Linked DNA regions of Homo sapiens: region 1 is linked to region 2. Evidence: fine-mapped expression QTL. A gene starts in region 2. The other region holds a variant in brackets. All regions are shown on one strand. Distances are between the middles of the regions.

Evidence for each region. PIP is the estimated chance that this variant, and not a neighbour inherited with it, causes the effect.
Region 1: its variant is the best candidate, but not a certain one, in a credible set for the expression of PPARG in whole blood (TOPMed, PIP 0.70).

Annotation. Positions count from the first base shown.
Region 1 is chr3:12,353,561-12,356,471 of GRCh38, reverse strand. The region is part of intron 2 of PPARG (peroxisome proliferator activated receptor gamma); the gene reads right to left. Among named protein-coding and RNA genes, the nearest start is that of PPARG, 66 kb to the right of the region's middle. The variant G/A (reference allele first, on the strand shown) is at 1,737.
Region 2 is chr3:12,287,231-12,290,141 of GRCh38, reverse strand. It overlaps PPARG (peroxisome proliferator activated receptor gamma), which reads right to left and starts at 1,072. Exons shown (of 8, transcript NM_138711.6): 1 at 1,008-1,072. RefSeq lists an enhancer at 2,511-2,911.

The DNA.
Region 1 (2,911 bases), 66 kb before region 2:
GTGTTAACCACAAGTGCCATTCACCACTTGTGGGAACCTCGATCTTGTGTTGGCAATCCCTTGCTCAAATAAAAATTACACGGTTTAAAACACTGTGTACTCAAATAGCCACGTGATCTTGATTCTGAGGTTATAAGAGTTGGATGGCAGTTGCTATCAGTTACATGTGCAATTTCTTCGTCTTTAAATTAGTTACAGGTGCAAAACTGCTTTTACCAAAACAAAAAACAAAAAACAAAAAAAAGACAATCTGGTAAAACTTTACAGAAACTTAATTCCATTCAAACGAGTCTAATTCATTATCACCTATATTTTCACAAATATTCAGCACTAGTAGATGGATATGAAGCATTTACTGGACAACCTCTAGTGCCTATTTTAAGCGTCCAAAGGGAGCTAACAGGACAGAAGCTCTGTATCACTTTTGTTGATCTAAGATAATGAAGAAATTTACTTTGCTCAGATTTCCTCTGTCTCAAGGAATATGTACCTAACGAAAGAGCTATGAAGATTTTAGAAATTTTCCCAGGATTATCCTAACAGAGTTATAAGTGAGAATGCTGACAAAAATAGTAATATATGACAACCTCTGTGAGAGGTATACAATTGTTTTTCATTTAATAACCAATTTTTATACTGCAATTGGCAGATTAAATGGATAGCTGCTGTCAGGGAGCTTTCAAGACAAGTTGTATTCCTTAGAGATAGTAGGGGAAAATAAAATTAAAAATGAAACCCTGTATTTTCTTGTAAACAGCTAATGTAAATGATACTTCTTTGGGGTGTTTCCTATAATTCATAATTTTGGAGGAAAGTATGAGACAAATGACAGTTTTCAGAAAAACAGTGATTTTCAGAGTTTAGAAATCTACAAAATCTGCCAAGTACTGGTGATGAAAAAAGAGGTTAATCAGAGTTAAGTCAGAAAAAAATGATAAAGCTAGAGCCATACTCAGAAAAAAATTAATATGGACAAGAGTAATATTCAAGAAAAAGGTCTTGAATTCTAATTACACGTGAAATTATGGAATTCAGGGGCAGGCTGCGATGGCTCACGCCTGTAATCCCAGCACTTTGGGAGGTCGAGGCGGGAGAATTCCTTGAGCCCAGGAGTTCAAGACCAGCTTGGACAACATGGTGAAATCCTGTCTCTATAAAAATTACAAAAATTTGCTGGGTGTGGTAAGGTACGCCTGTAGTCCCAGCTACTAGTGAGGCTGAGGTGGGAGGATCACCGAAGCCCAGGGAGGTTGAGGCTGTGGTGAAATATGATATCAGGCCTCTGCACTCTAGCCTGGGTGACAGAGTGAGGCTCTGTCTCAAAAAAAAAAGAAGATCTGTGTCAATAACTCAAATCTTTTCTGGACTTCTACTTCAGTGTACGAAAAACATTATAATCCAAGTTTCTCAATGCCTCTGAGAAGAAAACATGTAATTGTCACTTTTATTTAGGCCCAAAGAATAACTTCAATTTCTTCACAGGAAAATATTAATGAAAGTGGGAAATAATTTCATCATTTAAAAAAATTAGACACAAAGATGCTTTCTCTAAGTTTGATCATCTTCTCAAAACACTCACAGGAGATCATGCGGATGCCCCGCTTCATTCATATAACTGCCACTTACTCTTGTGCAATAAAGAGTTCTGCGGTTTTTGTTTTTCCATATCCATAAAGTGTTTAAAATGTAGGTTTCTTTTCTTTTTTTTTTTTTTTTTTGAGATGGAGTCTCGCTCT[G/A]TCGCCCAGGCTGGAGTGCAGTGGCGCAATCTCAGCCTCACTGCAACCTCTGCCTCCTGGGTTCACGCCATTCTCCTACCTCAGCCTCCTGAGTAGCTGGGACTACAGGCGCCCACCACCACGCCTGGCTAATTTTTTGTATTTTTAGTAGAGACAGGGTTTCATCGTGTTAGCCAGGATGGTCTTGACCTCTTGACCTCCTGACCTCGTGATCTGCCCGCCTCGGCCTCCCAAAGTTGTGGGATTACAGATGTGAGCCACTGTACCCAGCCTTTTCTTTTTTTAAACGGAGCCTTCTATTCTAGCCACAAGTGATTAACGCTACAAGGCTAAAGCAATAAATTCCATATAGGGCTTTAGATCTACTTGCACAAGTATTGTGTCATTTAATCCTCCCATTAATCCTGTGTATTCTGTTAATATATGTGGAAACAGAAGGCCAGAGAAGAAAAATGGCGTGCTTAAATTCACACAGCAAATATGTGGCCAACAAAGGACTGGTCCTTATATTCCCTGGTACTACATGGGTCCCTTTAAACTTCTGGAAAGGTGAAAACTTTGGTCAGTTATCTAAATGTTTCTGAATATACAGTTGCCTGGAGATATGTAACCACAGATTAAGTATCCCTCAATAAAAATGGCATGCAATCAATCACTCACTCCTATCTCAGGAGAGACTCGTTTTGAAGGATTGTCTATTGCAGCATTTATCATGTCTCTAAGGCATATTTCCATTGCTCAATCAGCTCCAAAGGACAAGTGTGTCATCATCTTTCAAGGCTCTGGTGCAACGACTTAAAATTGTAGAATTCACACAGGACTAAGTCTGGCACTAAAAGCAGGAGGCATATTCAGCTTGAGCTTGTGGAAGCTTCCCTTCAATCTTGCCAATTTTTACTAGTGGAAATGGTTTCAGAGCCAGCATGAGGTTACTTGGGGTTGCTTGAGGAGCTCTTGATAAAAAGAGAAAGGGGAATAATATAAAGGGGTCACAGCAATGATGGAGCCTTGGAAAAAGTATGGAAGTCCTCTTTGGGCATAGTGGCTAAGTGTAGTCGAGATTTTTAATCTCATGAATATGACCAATCTACCTGGATATCTGAGTCATTCACACTAAATGTGCCACTTTTTCTTAAATAGCAGTACCCAACCATTTGCAACACCCCCAATTTCAC
Region 2 (2,911 bases):
ACTGAGATGGCCACCAGTTGATTCAAAGATCTCTTAAGACATAATTATTAGCAAGTTAACTATCAAATATCATATAATTTAAATCAGGGAGAAAAATTATGTGAAGTACACAAGAAGACAAAAATGGACAGTTTTGTAATACACTTCACTTTTTGGCTGAGACATTACCTTTAAAGTTTCGTATATTAAAGTGAATATTCAAATACACTTTATTTGGAATCAAATAAAGTGTATTTGATTCCAAAGTGAATCTGATTGAAAATATACTACACAAAACTTACTTTAAAACTTGAACAGAATGTTTTGATATATTACTCCAAATGCTAACTGGTAGCATCTATGAGTGTCTTCTGTCAAACTCCCCTAGGAGTGAAAGGTATTTCTTTAAGAGAAAAGCCACAGTGAATGTCCATGCCAGTCCCTATACCAGAAAGGTTTTCTAAATCATCTAGCACCATCAGTTGGTTCTGTTCTCAGTCAGCAATCGATCACTTAGCAATAGACAGAAAGACTGCCATAAAATACCTGAAACCTGTCGAAGATTTGCCCAGGTCCTTTTAAAGAGTTAAGTTATTCATTGTTCTCTTAATAAATCCAGTTAACAATTTGTCTCACGAATGACAGAAACAGTTGGGGTTAAAATAATGTACTTCAAAATCAGAGGTTTTCCAGGAATAGGTATTATACAACTCAGTTTATCATTGTCTGGTTTTATATCCAAATGATAATTTACACAAATAAACTTTACATTTTGTCCCTAATCTTGCAAGGAAAAGAAGAAAAATTTTAGTTTCTTCATGGCAGACGACTATTTTTGACTTGATTTCTTTTATAACAATGACACTATTTTTACAACCGTTAGCCTATGACCCAAGTGAATTGGATTCTTCTTATAAAACAAGAGCACTGCAAAAAAAAATGATATAAGGATAATACAATAATTTTGCAAATTTCGGACCTATCACCAACACATTCCAACAAAATGCAATGAGAGTGAGCCAACTCACCTAAGGAAAGGGAATTAAGCAGAATGCAGAAATGCAGGCTTCTGGTCACCAGCAGAGGTTAAGGCCCCTTCCTTACCTACCACTGACCTTATATAAAAGCCGCAGCTCGGTTACTCCCCGTTTCTGACTCCTTACCTTAGGCTCCTCCCTAAACACCGAGGCGTAAAGTACCACGACTACACACCCACCTTCCACCAAGGGACCTGAGATTTCTGTTAACCTCTGCTGCCTCTACCCCCCTCAGTTAGGCTCCCAGGAGGAGTGGTCAGCGCCTGGCACTTGCAGGAGCCCACAAAGCAGCGACTTCGCCTTTCCAGCCCCCCGGGGTGCGGCTGGGGGTCCTGGCTGCGCGCTCCATCCGCGGAGGCACGGAGGCACCCAGTCCCCGTCCCCAGCCCCTCCGCCGGGCGTAGGGCCAGCACAACGCGTCAGGGCACAGGGCCTGGCCAGCTACAAGCGCGCCCCTCGCTGAACGGTCCCCCGGTCCCCAAGCGGCGGTCGCCCCTGGGCTCTGGACAGCGAACGGGACCTCCTCCTCAGCAGGGGTGCCGCGCGGCCTCAGGACGGACGCACGCGGATCTTCGCTTCCCCGGGTCCAGACACCCTGCTCCAAAGTTCCCCCGGAGCGGCTCCCGACGCTTGCGCACCTCCGCCGGGGACGCGGAGGTCCCCGTGTCCCCGGCTCCGCGCCCACCCGGCGCTCTCCCGAGGGGGGCTGTCCTGGAAGCCGGGACGCACCGGCTCGCGTCCACTCGAGTCGGCACCGGCCGCGGCTCTCTGTGCCCGCGCCCTCCGCCCCTAGTGCGCGCTCCGGTAGACGCGACCCTCAGCCCGGGTGCCCTCAGCCCAAGACCCCTTCACCCGGTCACCCGTGAGCCGCCCGCCCGCGACCCGTCAGTCCGGGTCCTGCCGGACCATGACCCTGCCTCAGCCCCGGACCCCTCAGCCGAGACCCCCTTCTCCCCAGCTCTCATCCGTCTGGGACCCCGTCAGTTCCCGTTTCCTCGGCCCTAGCCCCCAGACCCTCGGCCCCAGCCCTCCGCGCCCCCTCCCTGAGCACTCCCCGCCCAGCCAGCAGCCGGTTCCCGAGCGCCGCGGGCACCCGTACTCTGACCTGCGGCCACGGCGGCGTGGCGCCCCTCTCCGGTGTCCTCGAGGCCGACCCAAGCGCCCCAGGCGGCGGCTGCGGCTCGGGCTCGGGCTCCGAGTGCGCTGGGCCCCGCCTGCCCGCGGCGGAGCCGGGTCGGGCCGAGCCGGGCCCGGCGCGGGGGCGGGCGCGGGCGCCGGCTGGGGGTGGGGGTGGGGGTGGGGGTGGGGGCGGGGGCGGGGGCGGGGGCGGGGGCGGCGGCGCGCGACTGGGAGGGAGCGGCCCGGGCTCGGCCGCCGCCCGCGCACAGTAGGGCCCACGGCGGGAGCCACCGGCTTTCCCGCGTCCACTCTCTGCCCCGCGGCAGGCTACCTGGTGTCGTTTGCTCCTCGCCACCACCGCTGGGAGGCGGCCCAGAGAGGGTCCCATTTCCGAGGAGGGATCCGAAGTTTAGGGGGATGCCCCCGGCCAGGGCCGGTCTGGGGAGACCGAGGTGTGGGGCTCCCTCTCGGCCAGAGTGGCTTGCCCTTCACACGGCGATCGGCCAGGCCGTCTTCCCAAGATGTTCTTTCCAGTGACATTTTAAAAGAAAATTTAATTAAAGCATATTTCGGGTCCCTTGGTTTTCTCTTCTGATCGGTGGTGCTGCACACTTTCAGAGTTCCTTGCGTTTGTAAGTTACATGGTTATTCACAAGTCACTGACTTTTAATCATTAAAAACATTTCTTAAACTCATTAACAGAATTTCTTAAATTTCTTAGCAGTGTTTCTGACACCGAGGGACTCAGACAACATGGGTGGGGACGGAGTGGGGAC